Homo sapiens: one gene and its partners. The protein of the gene in region 2 interacts with the protein of the main gene of each other region in a pairwise test. Each region holds a gene or a part of one and is shown on either strand. Other genes may lie near its edges. The genes, in order: SPART, DESI2, COQ8A and BNIP2.

Region 1 (7,035 bases), on a different chromosome or scaffold from region 2:
CATCCTCATAGTTAGAAATACAAAGCTACTTAACTAAATTCTCACTTACCTGGTTTTTATTTAAATTCCATGAATCTTTGGAAGAAAGGATAAAAAGAATAGCAATAATACAATAGAAATAAATGAGCTGAGAATCACTGTTAAAAATATGCTATTTATCATATTAAGTTCTCATTAAGGACCAGAAGTACAAAATCTACATTAAAATCCAGTATTTCCTAGTTATGTGAATCCCAAACTTTTAATAAGCTAATTGTAGTTAGGTAAGTTTTTTTTTTTTTTTTTCATTAGAGTAGGCCATAAAACCCAACAAAGCACTTCCTATTTTCTAATATGATAATCTAAAAATAATTCACTTTTGGCCTGAAAGGCATTTCTGAATTTCTCCTGTTCTTGCTACAAATAAAGAACTATTTTTCTAATTATGACTGATCCAAAGTAACCTCAGGGTCATAAAACAATGAATGAATATTAGAGTTCAGGCCACAGGTGACAAGAAGTGAGTTGGAAGACTTGAGTTTCATATTTCTATCAGAAGAATTTGAGATCTATTGTATGTTTTATCTCTCAACTCTTGGTAAAACTGATACTCTGGCCAGGTGTGGTGGCTCACGCCTGTAATCCCAGAACTTTGGGAGGCCGAGGTGGGCAGATCACGAAATCAGGTGATCAAGACCATCCTGGCTAACACAGTGAAACCCTGTCTGTACTGAACATACAAAAAATTAGCCGGTCATGGTGGCGGACACCTGTAGTCCCAGCTACTAGGGAGGCTGAGGCAGGAGAATGGTGTGAACCTGGGAGGCGGAGGTTGCAGTGAGCCAAGATTGCGCCACTGCACTCCAGCCTGGGTGACAGAGTGAAACTCCGTCTCAAAAAAAAAAAAAAAACTGACACTCCAAAATGATATGCCACATTGCTTTGATTTGATTCAAAGGTATGTATGTCCCAGAATGTAAACTAGTTCAGCCACTTTTGGGAGATATCTCAAAAAACTTAAAATGGAATTACCATTTGATACCCAAAAGAAAATAAACTGTTCTATCAAAAAGACACATGCACTCACTCACATGTTCACTGCACTATTCATAACAGCAAAGACATGGGATCAACCTAGGTACCCATCAACAGTGGACTGCACAAAGAAAACATGCTAATATATACACCATGGAATACTACACAGCCCTAAAAAAATGAAATCATATCCTTTGCAGCAACATGGATGCAGCTGGAGGCCATTATTCTAAGCGAATTAATGCAGGAACAGAAAACCACATGTTCTCACTTATAAATGGGAAATAAACACTGGATACTCATGGACATAAAGATGACAACAATAGACACTGGGGATTACTAGGCCGGGGAGGGAGGAGGGGAGTGTGAGCTAAAAGACCATCTATTGGGTACTATGCTTACTACCTGAGTGATGGGATCATTTGTACCCCAAACCTCAGCATCACACAACAAATTCTATGTAACAAGCCTGCACATGTACCCTTTAATCTATAATAATAGTTGAAATTATAAAAAAAGTAAAAATAAAGCAATTCCTACTTCCTATCTTAAAACAAACAAACAAATGTATTCATGCCCCAGACGGAGCAGATCGAACCAATTAAGGATGGAAATTAAATTAGCACTGTAGAGCACAGGTTCTGATGACAGAAACACTTGGTTTATATCCCAGCTCTACTATTCACTAGGAGAGTAATCTTTAACAAGGTATTTAACTTTACATTTCGGTTTCCTCATCTGCAAAATGGAGATAACAGTGTTGAAAATTAATTAATACGTAGGAAAAGCAATGATCACAGTGCCTAATACAAAAGTATGAACTCAACTAAATGCTGTCAATAAGTGGATAATTAACATAAATAACCACGAGTTGTGAATACTATCAATATTGCTCTTCTTTTTTCTTTCTAAATAAATAGTAAGATCCAAACTAATTCAAGGCTAAGAAAGCAACTCAGGTCCTTCATACTAGATTTATTTTTTAGACCTTGATTCTTCTAGTATTGTATAAAGAAAGTAGAGTCAGGTAGAAAGAATAAGGAGCTAAAAGCAGAAGACCCTGCTTTACTCTCACCTTCAATACCACTTGTATAAATTTGTTATATAGTTGTTGCTTCAGCATTTATTTTTAGGCCTGACATAAGTTGCTTGAAACCTAGTTGTATCCCACCACCTTTGGCCTAGTTAAAACTTCTCTCTCCCCCATGCGGTTGTCTGCAATACAGTATACTTGTTTCTCATCTCACTGACTCAAAACCCAACACACCCCCACAGCTGCTGACCACGAGAAAATCCAATGGTCAACACTAGAGTCATGTAAAACTAGAGCCATGTAAATGTTCCCCTGTTCACACTTGTTTTCTTTAAACTAGTCAATCCACAGGCCCCACTGGAAAGCCAAAGGAAGAACACCCATAGACTTTCGTGAAGGCAGTCACACAAATCACCTCTCCCTTGCTCGTGCTCCCTTGTTCACCCACCCTCGCCCCACCCACTGGTTGAGCACTCTGCTATCTCCAGACTTCCTGTTGGCCCTCATGCATACCGCTCTTCTCTCAAGGGTCTGTGAGTAATAAAAAGTTTCTGTTATTTCGTGTGTTTGGTTGTGCTGCCTTCTCTGTGTGTCACCTGACCAACACACCCAAACCTTGCTCTCCTCCTAGTCAGGGTCTCCTAGAGAGTAGCTATCTTAGTAGGAATAAACTGGACACAGGTCAGAAAAGAGCCACAAGGGCATCTGCCATAAACAAGTTCCCTGAGAGAGGGACACCTGGTCATGGGTGTGCCAGGATAAAGAAGTATCCTGTGAAACGCACACTGAAAACATTCACGAGATTTTTTCCTCTTGAGCCACAACACAGCAGGATTAGAATTTATAGCCACTCTCCAGAGACAGACCTTAAGGCCAAATAAGAAAGCAATCATAACACTAATCAGGTGAGTTTGTGCAAATCATTCATTTCTGTTTGTCCATTTCTTAATATATGAAATTGAAGATATACCATCTACCCATTCCAATACAAATGTACAGTGGTAATCAGAGTCAAGTAAGATGTGACATAATTTTTAACAGTCTGTATACCGAGTGGGCTAATATTAACATGGGGTATAAGAGTTTAATTATAATTCAAGTTTTTTCAGGCAGATATCACCCATCAAAAACATGTAGTCAGTTAATAAGGTATACAGAAATTCCAGGCTTTTAAAAAAAATAACCTTATTCTTCACAGTAATGATGAACAAATGTTTATAATGATTAGTAACATAAAGCAAAGTGACAAGAATTCTGTTATTATACTAGAAATACTATTCTTCTCCCTATTTAAGAAAAGCAGTGAGTGAAAAAAATTATTTTATCAGATACTTAATAAAAATATCTTGACCGTCATGGGTTTTTACAAATGCTACAAGAGATTTAGTCCGCCAGGCATGGTGGCTTACGCCTGTAATCCCAGCACTTTGGGAGGCTGAGGCAGGCAGATCACCTGAGGTCAGGAGTTCGAGACCAGCCTGGCTAATGTGGTGAAACCCCATTTCTACTAAAAAAAAAAAATTAGCCGGGCATGGTGGCGTGTGCCTGCAATCCCAGCTACTCGGGAGGCTGAGGCAGGAGAAATGCCTGAACCTGGGAGGTGGAGGTTGCAGTGACCTAAGATCGCGCCATTGCACTCCAGCTTGGGCAACAAGAGAAACTCCCTCTCAGAAAAACAACAACAACAACAAAACAGAGATTTAGTCATTAAAATAAAATTCAACTTACTTGTATCTGACAGTTTGTACAGTTTCTGCTGAAACATTGTTAACGATGCATTTAGCTGCACATTCCAATCCTTGCCAGACAGTTGAAAATCCTGTAAAAATAATATTTAAAACGATGTAAATCTAGTCCAAAGCAAACGGACCTTCATAGTTAAAATTCTGGGCCCTTTGTTACCTTGAACACTACTTGCTGCTACAACCATAGCACCATCCAGAGGAGATTTCCCATCTTTGTCTTTTTTAAGAGATTCTGGAACAAGTTTGCTTCCATGCTTCTTGACATGTGGAGCTAGTTCTTTTCCAACGCAATTTGCTACAGTGCAAACTCCATCAACTAATATGACCATAAAAAAAGAAAACTTAGGAAAAATATATTATTCCCTTGATTTTTACCACTCATCTTGCAACATTCTTAAATGAACATCTAAATTGTTTTACTATATAATGTTACAATTTCTTCTTAAGGATATGAAGCTTAGAGAGGAGGTCTCACTATGTTGCCCAGGCTGGCCTTGACTTGTACTCCTGGGCTCAAGTGATCCTCCTGCCTCTGCCTCCTGAGTAGCTGGGACTACAGGCATGAAGCATAGACTGGTTATTTTTTAAATGAAAGCTTTTGTTTGCTTTAAAGCTGTGCTTGCAGAGCCTACTGATGTTTATAACCTTGCCTCTCAGATATACATGCTCTTGCACTTCTGCTTGAGAAAACCAGCCACCTTTTCTATCTGACTGTTGCAATGCAAGATTGGTTGGTACTTTTAGCTTATTCCAGCTTAGCGTATTCATATTTTTCTACTGATAAATATCTCAGTTATCTCGGTGAATAAAAGTAAACAATCTAAAATCTGATTCAAAAAATACTAAATACCAAAAAAGATAATTTTACTAAATTTAATGGTAATCCATTAAGGTCCTATCTACCCACCTCAAAACACCAAATTTCAGTGCTGTGATTCTCTAAGAGCAAGGATTTAGAAGTACATTGCTTGGGAAGGTTGGCACCAGAATCACTAAGTCAGTTTTTCTCAAACAACAGATCCCTCCCTCTTGACCCTCAACTGCTAAGCAGTAAACTGCTCTCCTTGAAAGAATGTGTCATATCCCTTAGAAGGACTCAAGGATTCACATCCAGTCATGCTGCATAATGATGGTTTGGTCATTTCAGACATTTCATGGTCCCATAAGATTATAATGGAGCTGATTAAGTCCCACTGCCTAGTAACACCACAGCCGCCATAACATCATAGTGCAATTACTTTGTTTTTAAAATAAATTTAGTGTGGCCCAAGTGTACAGTGTTAAAAAGTCTACAATAGTGTATAGTAATGTCCTAGGCCTTCACATTCACTCACCACTCACTCAGTGACTCACTCAGAGCAACTTCCAGTCCTGCAAGTGACACTTCTGGTAAGTGCTCTCTACAGTTTTTATGCCATTTTTTATCTTTTATATACTGCATTCTTGCTGCACCTTTTCTATGTTTAGATGTGTTTAAATGCACAAATACTTACCATTGTGTTACAATTTCCTATAGTATTCAGTACAGTCACATGGTGTATAGGTTTGTACTTAGGAGCAATAGGCTATATCATATAGCCTAGGTGTGGAGTGGCAACGTTTAGGTTTGTGTGAGTACATGCTATGATGTTCACACAATGATGAAATCACCTAATGACACATTTCTTAGAACTTACCTCCTGCGTTAAACAATACATGACTTTACATTCAGAACTCTTTTTCAAAGATACACACATTCTCCTCTCCAACACATCAGAACAACCCTTTAACCAGTTTCTCAAACTTTAATGTGCAAATAAGAATCACCTAGGGATCTTGTGAAAATGCAGATTCTGAATCAGTAGGTGTGTCTGTCCCTAAAATTCTGCATTTCTAAGGATTCCAGATAGGACGATGTGATGTTGCTGGTCCGCAGGTCTCACTATGAATAACAAAGAGAAACTGCTTTGTCCTAATTCTTTATTCTTGAGATTAAACCATCTAAATGAACATGCAGATTAACCCTGGATTAAGACATTATTTTAAATATAACTTTAAAAAGTAAAGTTATCTAGAATTACTTTACCCAGGAACTGACTGACTTTTGCTGCTCCTCCTGTAGCTTGCTTCGCTATATAAAGTCCCTTGGTGACAGCTGGACTAACTTCCACGGGTTTTTCTTCTGGTTGAATCCGCTCTCGGAGTTTAGAAGCACCTTTCTGGATTGCCTTACCAGTAATCTCAGCACCTTTGACTAAACCCCAACTCACCCAGGAAGCACCTTTTTAAAAGAAAATTTAAAATTGCACAATATTAGGGCTAATTATGCTTTTGAACACTTTAATAAATAACATCAACCAGAAAAAAATAAAAGGAGTTTGATATTCAGATGCTAAATGTGCCATGTCATAAACTTTCAAGCTAACTTTATACCTGCAGTTTTCTTCCTGAATACTTAGTGACACAGTTCTGCGTTACTCTATGCTGCCACTACCTAGTACCTAGAAGGCCTGAGATTTAGTGGCAGCTGATAATTTCTGAAGATGACCACAAACAGTATCTCTATATGTTACTTACCACAGTATATTACTGTTAGGTATTAATTTTTAGTTTTGGTGCCATTAAGATAGAATTTGGCCAAAGAACCCAGATATTCTTGTTCTTTTTGCCTTAGGCCAGGCATCTCTTTTCCCCATGAAATCTTGAGGGAGAAAGACAGAAACATCACAAAATGGAAACCAAAGAAACTGCCTCTCAAACACCAAGGCAGAACTCTTACTTTCTTTAGGCTAAAAGCTTTAGTCAGGGGGTCCTGTTCCTTCCTGAATCCTAAACCCAAACTCTTGGATCTCAGCACCGTTTAGCTTGCTACACATACCTGAATGACAAAAACATGAGAACACTCAAATGCATGAGTAGAGAAAATCTAAAAGAAGAAGAGTGAGGCCCAGATAATTTGGCCATTTCTCATGACAGTGGGCCCTAGCCCTTTGCTTTGCTTTGCTTATGTTCTCGCAGCTTGAATGACAGAAGTGCTCACCAGAGGAACAGAGGGATGGAAGGGCCTTCTCTAGTGAGGACAAAAGGTCCTCAGCCAGTGGAAATGTGGGGAAAGGAGTGGGAGAGGGATGGGAAAAGAAAAAACATGTAAGAACAGTGTCCCCTAAGATGGAAGAAGTATTACCCTACTCTGCAGAGACTTTCAATTTAAAATATTTCTTTTTTGGCTAACACTTAACAATGAGCTTTCAAAGCTGAACATAT
Region 2 (4,443 bases):
AATTTTTGAATTAGTAGAGGAAAATATTGCTCCACAGTGTGCAAAAAGGCCAGTGGAGGAGAAAGGGGAAGGGGCAGGTTGGAGGTGCCAAGCATTGGAGAACAGGTCCGTAGGAAATGAGCTCATTCTCTCAGGCTCCTGCTTGCTTTGCTGCTTCAAGACAAGGGACAGTGTGTGCATAAGTCGGGGCTATTCCTCTGCAGGTCTGTTCCCTGCACTCTGGGGGAGGAGTCCGTTCTAGCTTGCCCCTCTGCCTCCATTCCCCAGAAGTCAGGGCTGGCACCCCTCCCTGTGAGCAGGTGTGGCTATGCTATCTGACAGCTAAGGCACTGGGCCCACAGATCTGCGCTCAAGATCAATGCAGGTGAATAAAGGTACATGTGCATGTGAGAGGAAGAAAGGATGGAGGGGCTGGCCGTCATGTTCCTGCCGAGCACACGGGATGCTTGGGTTTTAAAAATATACCTCCCCACCCCGCCCAACACAAATACACAACAGTTATAATCTGAAAGAAAGCACTATAAAACATTTCTTATAAAAGTATTTTTTAATAAATCAATGTATTTCAATGTTGTAACATGATAGCCCAATGCTATATCAAGGTAGCAAAAGTGAAGATTCCTGGTATTTTGATATAAACACTATGAATGACAGTACACTTGCATTCAACTTCACAAGAAATTATCTTCAGGTCCATGAAGATTCTTTGACAGCTGTAACACTTTTCAAACAGTAAAGATGTACATGTATTGAAAGAGAAGACAACGAAAGCCTACTAACTGATCTGGGCTCTAAACCATACTGAAGAGAAAGAGATACAATGGTTGTATGGCTAGCTTGCTGAAAAAACATCTAAATCTTTTAAAGAAAGAAAATACAGCATATATCAAAGTTACAGAGTAGCTTACAGAAATGGAGTCATAAGGAGACACACAGATTAGAACCCTGAAGCAGTGAATGTGTTTCTACCCGTTTTGTGATGGAAAGAAGCCATGGATATCGAGTCCTGCAGCTGTCTGTGGTGTTGAATCTCCTCATACACACAATGCTACCAATGGACTAAAACCAGAATTCCCTGCTCTGTACAAATGCTGGTGATGGGTAACTTGCTCTATTGCTGTGGGTCAGAGCAACAGCTGGCTGGATTCAGGCATCAGGACGAGGCTAAGATCATACACCACTGCCTTCTACACTCCTACAGAGTCACACTTTCCAAAGCTGATGCTCCCCTTGTAAGGGTTTAAAAAAAAACCCCAAGGGTATTTAAAGCAAACAGCAGAAACCAGAAGCTTCTGACCCTCTAACATGTATTACTGTCCAACCCACCATGAGAAGTATGTTCACTTGGTGACAACAAAGAGACTCCGTATCATATGTATGTTAATGACCAGATTGTTCATATGGGATTTTTCTTAACAGATTATCAGGTTGAGAATGATTCTTTTTCTCCAAGGGCAAGAAAAAGCTGGCTAAATGCTAGTTAATTAAATCCATTCTCAATTTTGAACTGTAGAGAAGAACCTGACTTGAATGAGATTTTCTAAAGGAAGACATTTCTTGCTCAACCTCAGGTATAATTAGATTATAAGGAATCTCACGTCCAGAATTTTATCTGCTGATTGTTAGTATGGTAGGTAATTGGCCTTAGGACACTATTTCTACTAGAACCCTTTACATTATTTTTAAACTCCAAATGCTGCAGATGAAAGTAAATACAACAAATGCAAGTAAATACAACAAAATAACAATAAAATCACTTGTGTGCTGACTTGCTGGATTCTGGTTAAGCACAGATGGGATGTTCCTGATATTCACTAAGAAGAGTCTAACTAATGGCTACTGTGTGTGTGTCAGTAGCCCAGGTTTAAATCATATATACTTGAATGAATTAGAAAACACTGTACTCCTCACATTATTAAAAATATTACAAGCAAACTGTATCCAAGGCTTTGTACTAACCGTCTGGGGACAGGACTCTCTCTTTTTAGTGAACAAGTCACTGCTAGAGCCTTAGTGTTTTGCCCTCATTTTTAGACCTGAACCAAGTCGACATCTCATTAAGTTCATATATTCCTTTCTTCTGTCAAACCTCTTGAAACAAGCCTTCTGCCCCTAAAGAACTGAGAGTAATTTGTAAAGGCTTTCCTCTCTGGAAACAGAACAGTCGAAAGCATAAATTAGGTTAAGTGGCTTCATTGTCCTCAGGCTAATGCTTATAACCCAAGGTTTATTTTCCCTATGAACAGGGTGTGCTTACGTTGATAAAATGAACCAAAATCAGCTTATGGAAAAGTTAAAAATACAGTTTACTGAAAGATTATGTATCCTCACACAGAGCAATAGCAAACAATCCAATCTAAAAGTTTAAATAAATGTCAATAATTTTAAAACTAACTATATTTTATATGTATATAAAGCTGAAGTCACTGCCTTGGATAGTGTTACACTGCATCCAATATTTTATGAAGGACATTCATTCTTAAGGCAGAAAAATTGAATTTGACATGTAATGACTTGGTTCTTACATCCAAGGATCAAACTAGGAGTAGACTGGAGCAGACAGATTCCTTGCTAACAAGGATTTACCTGTGGTGACAGTTTCATTCTTAGAGTATGTTACGTAAGAGACATACATTTGAGAGAACATATAAATATGAATCTTAAGACACACAAATATGATTTTTTAACGATTGGTCAATGAGACTAGGCATTCTATTATGTGAAATGAGTCCCATGACAAACGCCAACATACTCTTTCTGACATGGTACATAAAAAGTATAAAATATCAAAGAACTACTTTTTTGGGGTAGACATTAGATTCTAGTTTTCAAGGTTTAGTATAAAAGGTAGCCTGAATAGTTAAAAGCAGCTGAATGTCAACTCACTGCTACTTGGAAGGCTACCACTTAGGATATTCCCACACCATCAAAATCCTGTGCAAGGAGGAAATACATGTGTATTAAAATAAAAATGAAGCGCCTCCCCCAATACATGTGCAACATACTTGTCAGTTACTACCAAGAATATCTTGAACGAAAACCAGCTAAACTATAGAATGAGTGGCATCAAAGTCAGAGAGACGTAAGAACATACCACCCCGCCTAGGTGGACGGATATTTGGGATGAAAGCAGGTGTTCCATGGGCACCTGGGGAGATGTGCTACTCAGAGTGGAAGGGGGTGTGAAGAGGAACTGGACCCAGGGTTCCAAGCCCTCAGGGCTGTGTGCTCCTTCACCTCAGGCCAGTCTGATTCTCTGCATCCTGGTGCCAACAACTTTAACAAAACAAACACAAATCTAAAAGACCATTCTGAAGCAGGTGATGGTGACTATAACTGTTTAAGTACCTTTTTGTGTGCCTATTTATGCCATAGATCTGGCAATTGTCAGAAGTATACAAAGATTACCTGCCTAATTTTTGAAGACATGAAGATTTTCTTCTTTCACTGTGGCAGGAGTCCATGCAAGATTTGTAAACAGCGATACAAGATACTGTAAACATAACTTAACAGAGCTTGTATAAAACAGAAGAAATAAATCCAGATTTACGAGTGGATAAAAAAAACAGAGGGCAGCTTCTTACAAAGTTCTCCCTCCTGCGCCAAGTGATTTTTTTTTTTTGATTACAAATATAATCCTGAGCTGAAAAACTGGGATTTGGGGGAGAGCCATCTTTGCATACAAAATATCTAAAGGATGCTTCTCTGTTTACTTTTCTCTAGTGATATTCGACTGCCAGAGACAGTTCTGAATGTGTGACTTTGGAGACATTTATAGTTTAGTGTGGCGCCCGGGTCTGGAGCCTGCTGCAGTGCTTGCCACGGAAGCGGATGCGGCAGCATCCTCTGCTTCCTCCAGTTCATCCTGGAGTTCTTGGCTGACACTAGACTGCAGGGCTGCGGGCGTGAGCCACTCCTTCGGGAGGCAACTCTGTAGAAAGGGTATACAGGAGCTGAAGTAGGCAAGTCGATTGATCCAGCGAGGAATCTCTTTCCCACAAAGAATCTACAGAAGAGAAAGAGTTCTGTATTAGGTAAGAGAGGTTAAGATTACCTGGTCCACTGCCAGGGAGTGGAGGGTGGGAGGAGGGGGGCGGCGTACAGAGAAGCCACGGCAGACTAGCCTTCAGTGGTGTCACTCCAGGCTTTTGATAACAAGCAGCTCTTTACTCAGGACCTGGGCTCCCTACTGTTGGCTCCATTCCTTCCTTTCTAAAGAACCTTGTCAAGTTGCTTACTTTTCATATCTGTGAAATCAAGCTAATTTCACTTGGCTCCTTTCTTTGATCTCTGCAACTGCTGTGAGACACACTGAAAAGTACTTTGAACACACAGAAGACGCTTGTTAATACAATATATTATTAGAGTAATAGAAGCCCCAGGCAATTGGAAGAGTCAATCTTGGATATTTTCCTATTTGTGAATTCTTCTTTTTCACAGATT
Region 3 (7,035 bases), about 18 Mb from region 2:
TGCAAAATTAGACAGGAATATTTAGACAGAGAGTTGTCTTGATTTGACAGTGGCATCTGGAGATACTTCTGTCATTCCTGTTAAGCAACAGCCAGGAACTCGGGAGAGCCAGTGGAAAGGAGAGCTGGTGGGAGTGAGTGAGTTCGAGGGTCCTGCTCTTTCTGGAGTTGCACATATGGAGGGGTGGGAGCCCCACGGAGGTGGTTTGTGAGAAGTGAGGATGGCCCGAGTCCCCAAGGGGAGATAGAACTGAAGGCATGGATTCAAAGAAATTTATGCAGGTGGAATTTCTAGACTGACTACCTGACTGGATATATGGCTGAGATTTCTAATCAGGGGGAGGAGCTGGTTGATGGAGGAAGAGCTGGTTTGGGAGAAGGTGGTCATCTTAGTTTTAGACATGATGGGAGCCTATGGGACTTCTTTCCATCCTGTTTGATATAATTTGCATACGGTAAATTCATCCTTCTTAGTGTGCAGTTCTGCGCAGTTTGACAAACGCACATAGTCACATAACCCCTACCACAATCAAGCTATAGAACAATTTCATCACCCTCCGAAATTTCCCTGCACCCCTTTCCAGTTGCCTGTGGGTCTTTGAAGTGGTGATGCGGTATGTGTGTGTGTAACTTGGTTTGTTCTGGAAATGGGTTCGGTTGTTGAGAGGTCCTGCCTGGCCTGAGTGTGGGGAGGCATCAGTGCAGAGCCTGTGGAGGGGCTCTGGCACCCCAGGAGCCAGTGCAGATGGCAGGGAGGCAGGGGTGTCGAGGACCAGCCTGGGAACTCCCAGGCCTTGGAGTAGGTGGAGAAAGAGGAGCTGGGGGAGGAAGCTGAGGAGGTGAGGCCAGAGAGGAGGGAGGAGGGAGGGCTTCTGGGAAGAGTGTGGGGCCAGCAGGGAACACTGTGGGGCAGGGGGTGGCTGAGGAGACCCACTGGCTTGAGCCCTCAGGTGTCACAGAGGGGCAGCTTGGGGTTGGGGCCAGAAAGTGTGTGCCGAGGGAGCAGGGAAGATGGCAAGTGCACTCCATCCTTGGGAGATGGTAGCCATGTCCAGAGGGTGGAGGAGAAGCAGAGCCTATGGGAGGTTTATTTAAATGTTTGGTACAGGAGAGCAGAGAGTGGGCTTGTGGGCTTCAGGGGAGGGCTTTTATGATTGAAGGCAAAAGAAAAAAATAGGTCAGGGGCAAGGTCTTGTTGCGGGAAGGAGGAGGGATGGTCAGTGTGGGAGGAGATTGGACAGAGGCAGGGGAAGGGTCTGAGAGATGTGGCCAAGAATGTGCGGGCCCTCCTATCTGGTTGCCCCCATTTCTGGAGTAACAAAGGTCCGCTAAAGAGGGGTCGAGGCCTTCTGTTTAATGTGAGAGGGCCAGGGGTGGGGGCTTGAAGAGCCTTAGGTGCCTCAGCATCCTTTGAGGAGTTGTACCCTGAGAGAGAGAGAGAGAGAGAGAGAGAGAGAGAGAGAGAGAGAGAGAGAGAGAGAGAGTGAGAGAGAGAGAGTGAGAGAGAGAGAGTGAGAGAGAGAGAGTGTGTGTGTATGTGTAGAAGGGAGGCAGGAAGGTAGGTGTTTCCGGGTCATTTGGAAAAGCCCAGTCCCTTATCTCTCCCTACCTCTGCACCGTCCACTGGAATTTTCCATTTCCCAGAGGTGTGTTTCCTGAGAGACAGAGAGGCTGTAGCGCCCCTCTCTGCCTTTCTGAAGACAGCAGGGTTGGTCTGCCTCTTACCTCTCACTATTTCATAGAATCTCTAGAAGGATCAGTATCTGCGTTGTTTTGAGCATTACTCTTTCTAGACCCCGTTACATCCCAGCTTTCAGAACAGCCCTGTGTGTGCTCTCCTTGCTGACTTTCTGCACTCCAGGGATGCATGGCCCTTTCCTAATCTCTGGGAACTAGACCTCCTCCAGGTCAGTCGCCTCACTTACACATGAGGAAATGAGAAAACGCAGGCCCCAAGAGGAGAAGCGGTGTGCCTGAGGTCACCCGCGCTTGGTGGCCTTGCTGTTGGTCCTCCCCGTCGGCCCTCATCACAATATATGCGGTGTCATCTGGGAACTGGAGGACCTGGTGGCAAGTCCCTGCTGTTCACGGGGCTGGATGAGGGGTCCTGGGGACAGTCCACATGAAAAGAAATGTTAAAGTTCAAGCTCAGAGCCTGGGCCCCAGCCCAGTGTTTGTTCTGTGCTTGGCACATTTTTTGTTTGGCACTGATACTGGCTCAGAGGAGGGTAAAAGTAAGAGTCGATTGCCCGGTAAGCTGAAGGTGGTTACTGTTTGACACGTGCTTGAGCAAACATCTCTAATCTTCCCGAGATTGAAAAAATCCTGTGGCTCTTGCTCCCTAAGGTGTTTACAGCCAGCATGTGGTCAAGGGTTGGACATTGTGCTGCCGCGATGCCTGTTGTAGCTGCTGTTTACACCTGCTTGGTGCTCACGGTTCATGGGCCAGGGCTGATTGGCCTGCTGAGGAACAGCTGCCTGCTGGCTTCAGCCCCTCCTCTTTTCCCTCAGTCTTAGACAGGGACGGGGGTGACGCAGAGGAAGCAGTAGCAGTGACTGCGTCCCCTGCTCCCTCCCTGGGTCTGTGTGCCCACCATGAGCGGGATTATGAAGCTGGCTTGGAAACTCATCTGGCTTTTGCTCCTGTAAAAATCACTTTTTGAACAGGGTGCTGCTGCCATTTCTGTGGCTGTGCATGTTGGGGATTCAGGTTCCCCTGGTGCTCAGCCTCCTCGGTGGTCTCTTCAGTCCTGGGCTCTCGATGAGGGAGCTCAGGAAGCCACGGAGCCTGGGTGCCTGGGTCCTGCCTCACTGACTCATAATGCTAATAAACTCGTGTGTATGAGGACAGTGCCAGACCCCGTTGGGGGTACAGAACTGGGAAAGAGAGGGCCCCTCCCTCCGGAGCTTACCTTGCAGTAAGGGAAATGGGACAGGCACACACAGAGTCATACAGGGCATGGCGAGGTGACCTTAGGCCATTAAGAGATGAGGGAGTTTAGAGGAAAGGAGATGACTTGCCTATGGAGGGGTTTACCAGTCCAGCAGGGTGGCCAAGATTCCAGCAGGGGAAATGATATTCCATGGGGAGGAGGGAGCAGGATGTGGAAGCTGGAAAACCTGTGTGGGTGTTGGGCGGGGCCGGGGGTCCATTCTGGCTGAAGCGTTGGGGCACGGAGGCATCTAGCGAGAGGTATCGCTGCAGAGGTGTCTGGGGCTCCACAGTGAAGGGCCTTGCTGGCCAGGCCAGACCAGGGAGAGTGGAGATCAGCAAGGAGATGGCCACCTCTCCTGGGTCTGTGGTCCCCTTGCACCCTGCTGAGCCTCTTCTCATTTCTCGTTGCGTGTGTGGTTGTTGTCTGTCTAGGATTGCCCCTTGTCTGGGTTAACTGGGTGATTTTAAAAGCTATCGAGGTTTTACATACACATGTAGTGCCTAAGGGTTGTGTGTGACCTCAGGGCAGAACATGTTTATTTAACTTCCATACCAGTGATGTGTGCATGTCCACACCTGGCCTGTGTGTGGCATTTGGAGGTGATGCTAATAAAGGTTGGTGCTGGTGTTGAGTGTGGCAAGACTGAGGGCCGTGTGCCCGATGGCTCCTCCTAGCTCTTGCACACCCAGAGGCAGTCTTCAGTGTAGGGCGTCTGCCTCTTTCCACTATTTATGTTTAAGATCAAACTGGCTCTGGAACCAAGCTTTGCCTCTAGTGGGTAGGATCACTGGTGCTGAGAATTGTGATACCCTCAGTCCTGGCAGCTGACAAACTTTCCAGAGCAGGGAGTTTGGCCAGATGGCCTTTGAGAGCCCAGCTGGCCCCAGAATTTTTATGACTCAATTTTCTGTAACCAGGAAGACACATTTCAGGATGTAAACCTTGCTGATGTCTCATATTGAGTGACTATTGATTTAACAAAAAAGGAGTTATTGATTTGGGGCAGTGTTCTTCTCTGCTATCTCTCAGCTTCCTAGGCAGTAAGAAGAAAGGACTGGAGCCTGAGTCAGACAGGTGTGGAAGGGTCCAGCATCCCACAGCTTTGGCCCTTAGGAGATTGCTCAGCCTTGATGAGCTTTAATTATCCTATCAATGAGTGGGGATAATACCTCACCAGGTCTTTGTAAGAACTAGAGGTAATATAAAGTGACAGGCAGACAGAGGGGAATAATAAATGGTAGCTGTTCTTGTTATTATTCCTATTTCATTGAGATATTAAACCTGAAGTAAAAGTGTTTTGAAAGATTAAGAATATAAAACCGAGGCCAGGCACGGTGACTCACACCTATAATCCCAGCACTTTGGGAGGCCGAGGTGGGCAGATCACTTGAGGTCGGGGGTTCGAGACCAGCCTGAGCAACATGGTGAAACCCTGTCTCTACTAAAAATACAAACAAATTAGCCAGGTGTGGTGGTACCCACCTGTAGTCCTAGCTACTCAGGATAATCACCTGTGCCTGGGGAGGTTGAGGCTGCAGTGAGCTGTGATCATGCCACTGAATTCCAACCTAGGCAACAGTAAGACCCTGTCTCAAAAAAATATATATATATATATATCTATCTGCCTGGCATGTAGTATGGGCCCAATATAGAGAAAGTCAACAGGACTCCGTCATTAAGAACAGGAATGCACTGAGCTGTCTGTGGGGTAGTCTACCACCCAGCTTGGTGCCTCGCACTTGGTTGGCATTCAGTAGTATTTGTGGAGTGACCAAAGTTAATTTAGAAGAATGGTCTGGAAATTATTCTAGAATACAGCCCCTCTCCCCAACCCAAGGATCTGCTTTAATTTCCTATGGCTGTTGTGATAAATTACCACAAAGTTTGTGGCTCAAAGCATCATAAATGTATGATCTTACAGTTCTGGAGGTTAGAAGTCTGAAATTGGTCTCACTAGGCTAGAATCAAGGTATCAGCTGGGCTGGTTCATTTCTGGAGGCTCAAGGGCAGGACCCGACCCCTTGCCTTTTCCAGCCTAGAGGCTGCCTGCATTCCTTGGCTTGTGGCCTCTTCCTCACAATGGCATCACTCCAGCCTCACTTCTGTCTCCCATCACCTCGTTCTGACTCTGCCCTGCCTGCCTCCCTCTTATATGGGCCCTTGTGATTACATTGGGCCCACCTGGATAATCCCCCATCTCAGGATCCCTGACTTCATCATATCTGCAAAGTCCCATTTGCAGGTAACATTCACAGGTTCTGGGGATTGTGGTATGGGTATCTTTGAGACACCATTATTCAGCCTACCACAGCCACCCACAGTATTTTGGCCAGATTTAAAGACAACCCTGTAAGCGTCTGAAAGAAACGTTGAAAGAAACCCTTCAACCTCAACTTTAGGATCCTTAATTACCTTCCTGGGTGGCAGTGGTTCGTGAATTCAGTCAACGCTTGCGCTTGTAATTTGTGTGGGTGGATCACTCTGTGTGTGTGGGTGGAGTGGGAAGAGTCAGAGTTGTCTGAGACAAGAGCCTCCCACAAGGAGCTTATAGTTTGAAGAGAAGAGAGGTCCATGTGCAAGAAGAAGAGTAACTTACAATGTAGGAATCTGACCAGCAAGTTAGATCAGCTGTCAGGAGAACGTAAATATGGAAGAGCTGGGAATCAAGGGCCTGAATAGGAATACGTTCTTGAATTTATATGGTGCTTTAACACATTTCAAAGTATATCCACCCACCCCTCCATTTATATTGGACAATATAATAACTTATACCATCATTTCGAGGAGAGGAAACAGGTCAGAGATGGTTCGAGAATATGCCTGGAGCAGCCCAGCTGGTCAGGGCAGAGCTGATTCCCAGCCCCAAGGCCCCAAGGCCCTCACCCTTGGCTAATGGGTGGGTTTTCAGACGTACAGAGATGAAGGGGCGAGCGGGCCTGCCTGAGAAAGTAGGACCTGCAGAGTGGAGTGCGCTCACATGGCTCGCGCGTAGCTGGAGGCTGGAAAGGAGGCCGGGGGCCTGATTTCGATGCCTGGGACTTCAGGCGCAGGAGTTTGGGTTTTATATATATGTCTACATACATGTCTACAGGTAGAGGAGCCATTTGAGCAACGCGTTGGCATGATGAACGTGGGTTTTTTTATAGGGAGAGGAATCTGGCAGGAGAGTGTTCCATGGCTCGGAGCTGGGGAGCTTGTGGGAGTTAGAGGGGTTTTCTTCCCAACTGCCTCTCCCTGAATGTACCTGGACAAAAGCCTCCCATGCTGTTTTCTCCTTTAAGGTGAAGTGGTAAGGAATACCAGTGGACATTTGTGTCCCTGGTTTCGAAGCAGGCTGCCAGCACTTTGGACTGCCTCTCCTGAATGATGCCTCATACCACAGCACTAAATAAACCACACTGGTCCTCCCCAGCCCAGCCTTCCTCCCAACTCAGGTATGAGACTGTGCCTGGCAGGAACAACTGCGGGTTATCCAGACTGATCCCATTCACCCTAACCGTTGGTCTCACCAAGTCTGAACTTCATTCCAGAATGTCTGTGTGCTTGCAATACTACTACTAATAATAATGGCATTAGCTAATGGTTTTTAAGCACCTACTATATGTCCTGAATGCTGTTACATGGATTTATCCAGTCCTTTCAAGAACAGATGAGGAAACTGAGGCACAAAGATAAGCTCACATGACTTGATTTAGGTCACACTAGCAAGTCAGTGGCAGAGTCATGATGTGAACCCAGATCACCTAACCTCAGAGCATCTTAACCATGTCACCAGTATCACTTCCTGAGCCAAATATTTTAATTTAAATGTTTTAAGCAGTAAACTTCACTAGGTTTTTAGTCAGAAAACTAAATTGCCATCAGGACCTTGCGCTTGGCTGGTTGGCCTTTAAAAGCCTTGTGTGTCATCGGCTATATCAACTCACAGAGTGGGAGAGGCTGCTTGGGACCCTCTGTTGCCTGCCTGTGGTTGGAGCTCTGAGCCCATGCAGGTTCGCTCACAGTGTTGGGTCCTTCTCTGGACTATCATCAGAGGCTGGAACTTTGCCTTCTGCTGCTTTTATATCACCCCCAACCCTGCCCAGCTCCCAACCCAGTGC
Region 4 (7,035 bases), on a different chromosome or scaffold from region 2:
TGTGATTTTGCCACTGCACTCTACCCTGGGTGACAGAGTAAGACCCTGTCTCAGAAAAATAAATATCCCAGATCTTTTCACGTGCAAGTTTGTGAACAACAGAATGAAGGTTAAAGTAAAAGTATTTGTTACTAGATACAGGACTAGATGAGTCCTTATTCTTTGATATTATGGAACGATAGTTTTCCAATTCAAGAGAAAAATTGTCATTTTAAAACTGGGAAATATATCTCAGATTATTTGTTCCAACTTTGTTTCGTTTTGTTTTGAGATGGAGTTTCACTCTGTCACCCAGGCTGGAGTGCAGTGGTACAACTACGGCTCCCTGCAGCCTTGACCTCACGGGCTCAAGCCATCCTCCTACCTCAGCCTCCCTAGTGGCTGGGACTGCAGGCACATGTCACCACATCCTGCTGACTTCTTAATTTTTGGTAGAGACAGAGTCTCACTATGTTGCCAGGGTTGGTCTCAAACTCCTGGGCTCAAGTAAGCCACCATGCCTTACCTGTCCCAACTGTTTTATGTTAACATTTGCAGGCACATTAAGTGTAAAGAAGTGATTTTTGTCTCAAAATCATGTGGCTAAATTACATTTACCCCTAGAAGGCCAATATAATTGAGCCAAATCAGTTCTTTTTCCACAAGGTCATTCTATTTCTCAGGTTAGTGCAGTTTTTAAAAACCGTATTGTGGAAAGTTTCAGACATACACAGGGGTAAAGAGAAGTATATCAAATCTTCATGTATCAGTCACTTCAACAATTACCAATTTATACTTTGTTCCCACTTCTAACCCCCAGTTTACAAGTTTGAAGCAAATCCCAGGAGCAAATCATTTCACCTAGAAACATTTCAAAATATATCTCTAAAAAATAAGATAATCGTAATACTAGCTAATGCGGTTTGAGCATTTTCATTGTTGCTCTCATTGTAGGAGAGAGGAAGGAATTGTATAATGGTACAATTTAGAGAACCTAGTTCAGTTATGCACAGTGATTTTTAAGGCTTAAACTTAATTTGTTTTTTACAGATATGTTATTGGCACTTTGGAGCTATTAGTAGCAGAAAACTACATGATAGTTTATTTAAATGGTGCAACAACTCGAAGAAAAATGCCCAGTCTGGGATGGCTCAGGAAATGTTATCAGCAAATTGATAGAAGGTAATACAAATACAAGTTGAAAGCTAGTCTGAAAAAATTTTATAATGGCTTTAGGAAATCAAACTTTGTTTTTCGTTGCTATTTTTTTTTTTTAACTTTTTTTTTTTTTGAGACGGAGTTTCACTCTTGTTGCCCAGGCTGGAGTGCAATGGCACAATCTCGGTTCACCGCAACCTCCACCTCCCAGGTTCAAGCGATTCTCCTGCCTCAGCCTCCCAAGTAGCTGGGATTACAGGCATGCGCCACCACGCCCAGCTAATGTTGTATTTTTTGTAGAGACGGGGTTTCTCCATGTTGGTCAGGCTGGTCTCGAACTCCTGACCTTAGGTGATCCACCCGCCTCGGCCTCCTGAAGTGCTGGGATTACAGGCGTGAGCCACCGCGCCCAGCCTTCTGTTGCTATTTTAAAACACCATTTATTTTTTAAATTTTATTTATTTATTTCATGGCAGGTTTCTGTTTTCTAAAGATAGCATTTTAGAATATTGTGAGGGAAATCAATTTTGATTTTTCTATAAAGAATAACCTTAATTCTTCAAACTTACAAAGTAGCTTTATATTTCTCCTTATTTAATTGAAGACTTTCTCCTTATTTATAAGATGCAATTTTCTCCACATTGAACACTTTTTTTCCTATTATTTACGTCTTGGCAAAGGATGGAGAATGTAGTATGTTTCCTATTTCATTACATTGAGTTTTGCCTAATTTATAGTGCTTAGCATGTTTTATGTTTTTGTTTTTGTTTTGTTTTGAGACAGGGTCTCACTCTGTCATCTAGGCTGGAGTGCAGTGGTGCAATCTCTGCTCACTGTAGCGGCAACCTCCCAAGCTCAGGTTATTCTGCCACCTCAGCCTCCCAGGTAGCTGGGACTACAGGCATGTGCCACCACACCCAGCTAATTTTTGTATTTTTTGTAGAGACAGCGTTTTGACATGTTGCCCAGGCTGGTTCTTGAACTCCTGGACTAAAGCGATCCACCTGCCTCAGCCTCCCAAAGTGCTAGGATTACAGGCATGAGCCACAGCGCTCAGTATTTATGTTTTTTAATGGTGCTTATTTAGTTGTAATCTTTCTTTGGAACAAGCTTTAGAAGTGTTTTGTCTTGGGAGTTAGTCATCAGTACTTAATGGAAGGAATGTGATCTTCCGATTGGTTTGATCTTGCTGTGGCTAATTTAAATCAAGTCAGACCCATTAATAGGTTTCTCTTCACATCTAAATTTGACATTGGCTAGCTCTTATGATTATATATGTATCTCACTTTATGTGTGAAATATGCATAATACAAAGAGTATTTAGTCATTTAAAAAGGAGAAGTCTAGGATAAAACCTTTAATTTTTAATCAAAACTTTAAATTCCTTAAGAATAGGAGTTAGATCTGATTTGTTTTTGTTCCTGTGGTCATCTTCTCCACTCACACTTCTCTGCCTGCACAGTGCTTTTCATGGTTTTGAAGAACTTAGCACCAATTTCTCCCTAGTCTTGGAAAATGAGAATAGTTTACTTTTACATTCAGTATTGGCCTCTTTCCCTGTTTACAGAGTCCTGAAGACAAGTGAATGTGTATGCTAGGAGACATTTAGTAACAGGCTATACTGTGGACGTAAATCTGGCCAAATGAAGTAAAGTTCATTTCATAGCAGTAGGAGGGACCATAAGAATTTAAGAGTGCATTTTCTTGTCTACAGGGGTATCACACCTAATTGAGAACTTTTGGGTGAGATTTTTCAACTATTATTTTGTATAAACTTGCAGCATTAGAATTTATAGAAATTTTTAATTTTCTTTGTGTGTGTGTGTTTTTTTTTTAAACTCCAGGTTACGGAAAAATCTAAAATCCCTAATCATTGTACATCCTTCTTGGTTTATCAGAACACTTCTGGCTGTTACAAGACCATTTATTAGGTAATTTTTGAGAGCCATTGACTTTAATTTTATTTTTTTTATTTATTTATTTTTAGTTAACACATAATAACTATACATACTTATGGGATACAGAGCTATATTTTGATATGTGTATACATTGTATAATGATCAAACCTGGGTGATTAGTACATCCATCACCTCAGACATTTATCATCTTTTTGTGTTTTGAACATTCAAAATGACATGATTTTTGTATCTTGTAAACATTGTATCCATTGTATTTGTCAGAAATATGGAAGTAATTATTTTTATTTTCTTCCATAGCTCGAAATTCAGCCAAAAAATTAGATACGTGTTTAATTTGGCAGAACTAGCAGAACTTGTCCCCATGGAATACGTTGGCATACCAGAATGCATAAAACAGTATGTTTTGTTTTATTTCCTTAATTGTATTGGATCTTAACATTTTGATGTGCAATGGATAATACTTTTCAATACTCATTCTTTATGTATTATATTTTATAACTGTGCGCGCGCGCGCGTGTGTGTGTGTGTGTAACAAAGAAAAAGAGGAAGAAGCCATTTTCCCACACCATCCCCCTAAGTTAGCATTTTCTTCAGGCTGTCAGTTGAAGAACTAGGATAAATTATTTCCGGTTGTGATTCATGTTATACTTTTATAGACTACTTATAATCTAAGAGATGATTTCTCTAATTGATCAGTACTAAAGAGCATTCTCCAAACTTGAACATAGTGCTCAACAAATTTGAGTAAACTGATCATCAATATTATTATTGAATAATCATATTGCTAAATAAATAAAAATATTTAAATCATCATAACCTTAATGTTTTCCAGTGACTGAAATTCTGTTCTGATTATCAGATTCACATTCTTCCATGTAACTTCTTGGACTTGGTAGAAGGCTGTTAACATAAATAACTGAGTATTACAATGCATGTGGAAAAGTTTCTTTGTTCTGCTCACCTGAGGTTTTAGTCTATTTAATGTATGAAAGTCAGATTTATTAAGTAAATTTTTACTTTCTACATCATGTAGTAAATATTTTTGGTTTTGCTGGAAAATTTAAATGAGTTTATTTTTAGTAGCTTTTTTCAAGTTTTTATTCATTTTCATAACATGTATATTTACTGAAATAACTCTTCCCTACAAAGGTATGAAGAAGAAAAGTTTAAAAAGAAACAAAAAAGGTATATGCACACCTTGACTGGGTTGCATCTAGACTAGTCCATTTGCATTGCAGACTAACTCTTCCTTATTGGTTGGTTAGCTTGTAGACAAAGATAATAGCATTTGCAAATATAAATGTACCCCAACTTCCAAATACAGGGTGAACCCAGAGTTCCTAAGGCTGAATATGACTTGGATTCACCATGTTTTATTGCCATATATGATGCCAATTAGCAATTAAAAACCACAGACCCTTCTCTCTCCTTCTTAGTCTAAGTACTAATGGTGAAACCAGAGAAATTACTAAAAATGGTATTTGGAACACCAAATAATTTTAAGACTTTATCTGTTTCACCATTTTCTTTAAATCGCTAACTTGTGCTTTTGAAATATTTTTGCAGACTTTTTAAAAGTTCTCAATTTATTTCCCTGGGGTTGATTATTATATTTGCAATGCATATATACTTTGGCTAACCAACATTGGTTTCCTTTTATGCTTAAATTAAATGGCTTGCTAACCAGTCAAATTCTACATGTGATAAAATACCTAAAATCTCAGTGTCCCATTTAACAGTTAAACACTTCACTTTCTATTTTAAATTTAATTTTGAACACTTCTGCTTTGAGCATAACAAACTATTATCTATTGATACCTTGACATAGATGATGAAAGGCAAGGGTATAAAATACTTAGAATTTTGTATAATAATTTAGAAAAACGTAGAATTTAGATCTAGTTTGTTAGATCTTTAAAATATTGGCAATTAAATTAGCAAAACATAGTTTAATACAATCTTAAGAGTTACGGTGAGAGATTTATATGTAATTATCTTGACCATTCTAAGGAGCCAACTGTAACTAACTGGAACATTCTTAACTTTGAACACATTTTGTTTCTGTTGATGAGTGAGAATTTAGTAGACTTTGTGATAGAATCAGTTTTACACTTCTATATGACACTTCACAGTTTAACCAACACTTTAACATAGAAATGTAGACAGTGATTTTAGATCATGCTGATTTCACATTCCTTTCTAGGCATTGCTGTGCATTCGACAGACAAGTGGCTGAAATTAAAAATATGATTTGTAATTGTAGAATATTTTGAAGCCAGCTGCTTCATAGATTTCACAGTGAATTGCCTTTGTTGATAAAATATGCTGTATTAAGCCTTTTTAAAAAAAGTTTTTAATACTGTTAAGTAATTTAGACATCAGAAAAAATATGGAATTTGTACTTTTTATTTAAATATATTGTTTGAAACCTGTCACTATTTTATCTTGATTTTTTTTTTACTTGTGTTTAACCATAAATAGAATGATTACATGTATCTTTCAAAAACGTTCTGTTTTTTGTAGTTTCTTTAGTCTTAAAAAATAATAAATTTTTGTCAATCTGAAAATGATAAAATTTAATTTTTAAATTAAATTTAGGTAGAGAGGCATGTTTTGTTTTGAGACAGAGTTTCACTCTTGTCACCCAGGCAGGAGTGCAATGGCCCAGTCTCAGCTAACTGCAATCTCTGCCTCCCGGGTTCAAGCGATTCTGCTGCCTCAGCCCCCCAAGTAGCTGGGATTACAGGCACCCACCACCATGCCTGGCTAATTTTTGCATTTTTAGTAGAGACTGGGTTTCACCATGTTGGCCAGGATGGTCTCGAACTCCTGATCTCAAGTGATCCACCCACCTCGGCCTCCCAAAGTGCTGGGATTACAGGCGTCAGCTACCACGCCCAGCCTAAACCAAACTTTACAGAAGCTAGGTGCAAGGGAGCTTATTTAAGGTGACAACTGCATGATATGATAAGTAGTGGTGCTAAGAAGAGTATGAAGCTATGAGTCCCTATGGCAGGTTTTTGGGGAGCAGGGGAAGAAGGGGCAAAACCATTTTCTTGAGGGGCTTGTGGGGAAGAGGGTTGAAGAAATGTTGACAACAGGGAGATCCAGTGTCCCCAGTGACAGAAAAAGGATAGCAGTTTAAATGTTTAAAATGTTTCTTTCAAACAACTGGATGCAAGTGTGGCCATGCAGATACAGATTGTTAAAATGTTTCAGGGGAGTTTAAAAATAATTATGAAATTAGTTGGTAAGGATATTTCAGATGTTAAGAGGATTTGATATATTTTGCATGCCTTATCAGAAATACATTCCAAATTTTTTATAACAATATTTTAAATATTTTAAAATGTTACTTTGGCTTTACCACAGACCAGGGCTTTTAGGTCTGTTTCACTAATATTCAGGTGGGCATAGTAATGGGTGATGAGAATAAAAACATATGAAAAATATTTTTCTTTATCTAATACCGGATTGTTTTAAAGGTCCCTTCATCAGTTATTCAGACCACTACAAATGTAATAGTAATAGACTGTTAGCTTTGAAGGGTTGTCTGTAATTATTATGTGGTAATTATGTAATCCTTCTAATGCCCACATGCGTAAATTTTGATATGACTGATGTCCAACCCACCACTAAATAAATAAGCTTTTTGATGGGTTTTTGTTTTGTTTTTTTGAGACAGGGTCTTGCTCTGTCACCCAGGCTGGAGTGCAGTGGTGCAGTCTCGGTTCACTGTCGCCTCCGTCTCCAGGGCTCAAGCAATCCTTCCACCTCAGCCTTCTGAGTAGCTGGGACTACAAGTGCACACTACCACACCTGGCTAATTTTTGTATTTTTTGTAGAGACGGAGTTTTGCCATGTTGCCCAGGCTGGTCTCAAACTCCTGGTCAAGCAGTCCGCCCGCCTCGGCCTTCCAAAGTGCTGGGATCATAGGTGTAAGCCACTGTGTCTAGCCAATAATTAATTTATATTAGAT

The links.
Region 1: the proteins of DESI2 (region 2) and SPART interact in binary tests that used the Homo sapiens proteins (3 or more experiments, as listed by UniProt).
Region 3: the proteins of DESI2 (region 2) and COQ8A interact in binary tests that used the Homo sapiens proteins (3 or more experiments, as listed by UniProt).
Region 4: the proteins of DESI2 (region 2) and BNIP2 interact in binary tests that used the Homo sapiens proteins (3 or more experiments, as listed by UniProt).

Annotation. Positions count from the first base shown.
Region 1 is NC_000013.11:36,308,370-36,315,404, forward strand, and holds part of SPART (spartin), read right to left. Parts: intron 6,053-7,035; coding exon 5,858-6,052; intron 5,714-5,857; exon of another isoform or gene 5,599-5,713; intron 4,109-5,598; coding exon 3,950-4,108; intron 3,867-3,949; coding exon 3,776-3,866; intron 1-3,775. UniProt on the Homo sapiens protein: Lipophagy receptor that plays an important role in lipid droplet (LD) turnover in motor neurons.
Region 2 is NC_000001.11:244,705,119-244,709,561, reverse strand, and holds the end of DESI2 (deubiquitinase DESI2), read right to left. Parts: intron 4,007-4,443; coding exon 3,773-4,006; 3' UTR 529-3,772; downstream 1-528. UniProt on the Homo sapiens protein: Has deubiquitinating activity towards 'Lys-48'- and 'Lys-63'-linked polyubiquitin chains. Deubiquitinates 'Lys-48'-linked polyubiquitination of RPS7 leading to its stabilization.
Region 3 is NC_000001.11:226,943,267-226,950,301, forward strand, and holds part of COQ8A (atypical kinase COQ8A, mitochondrial), read left to right. Parts: intron 1-48; exon of another isoform or gene 49-137; intron 138-6,216; exon of another isoform or gene 6,217-6,369; intron 6,370-7,035. UniProt on the Homo sapiens protein: Atypical kinase involved in the biosynthesis of coenzyme Q, also named ubiquinone, an essential lipid-soluble electron transporter for aerobic cellular respiration.
Region 4 is NC_000015.10:59,665,309-59,672,343, reverse strand, and holds part of BNIP2 (BCL2/adenovirus E1B 19 kDa protein-interacting protein 2), read left to right. Parts: intron 1-1,029; coding exon 1,030-1,161; intron 1,162-2,981; coding exon 2,982-3,068; intron 3,069-3,353; coding exon 3,354-3,452; intron 3,453-4,205; coding exon of another isoform or gene 4,206-4,241; intron 4,242-7,035.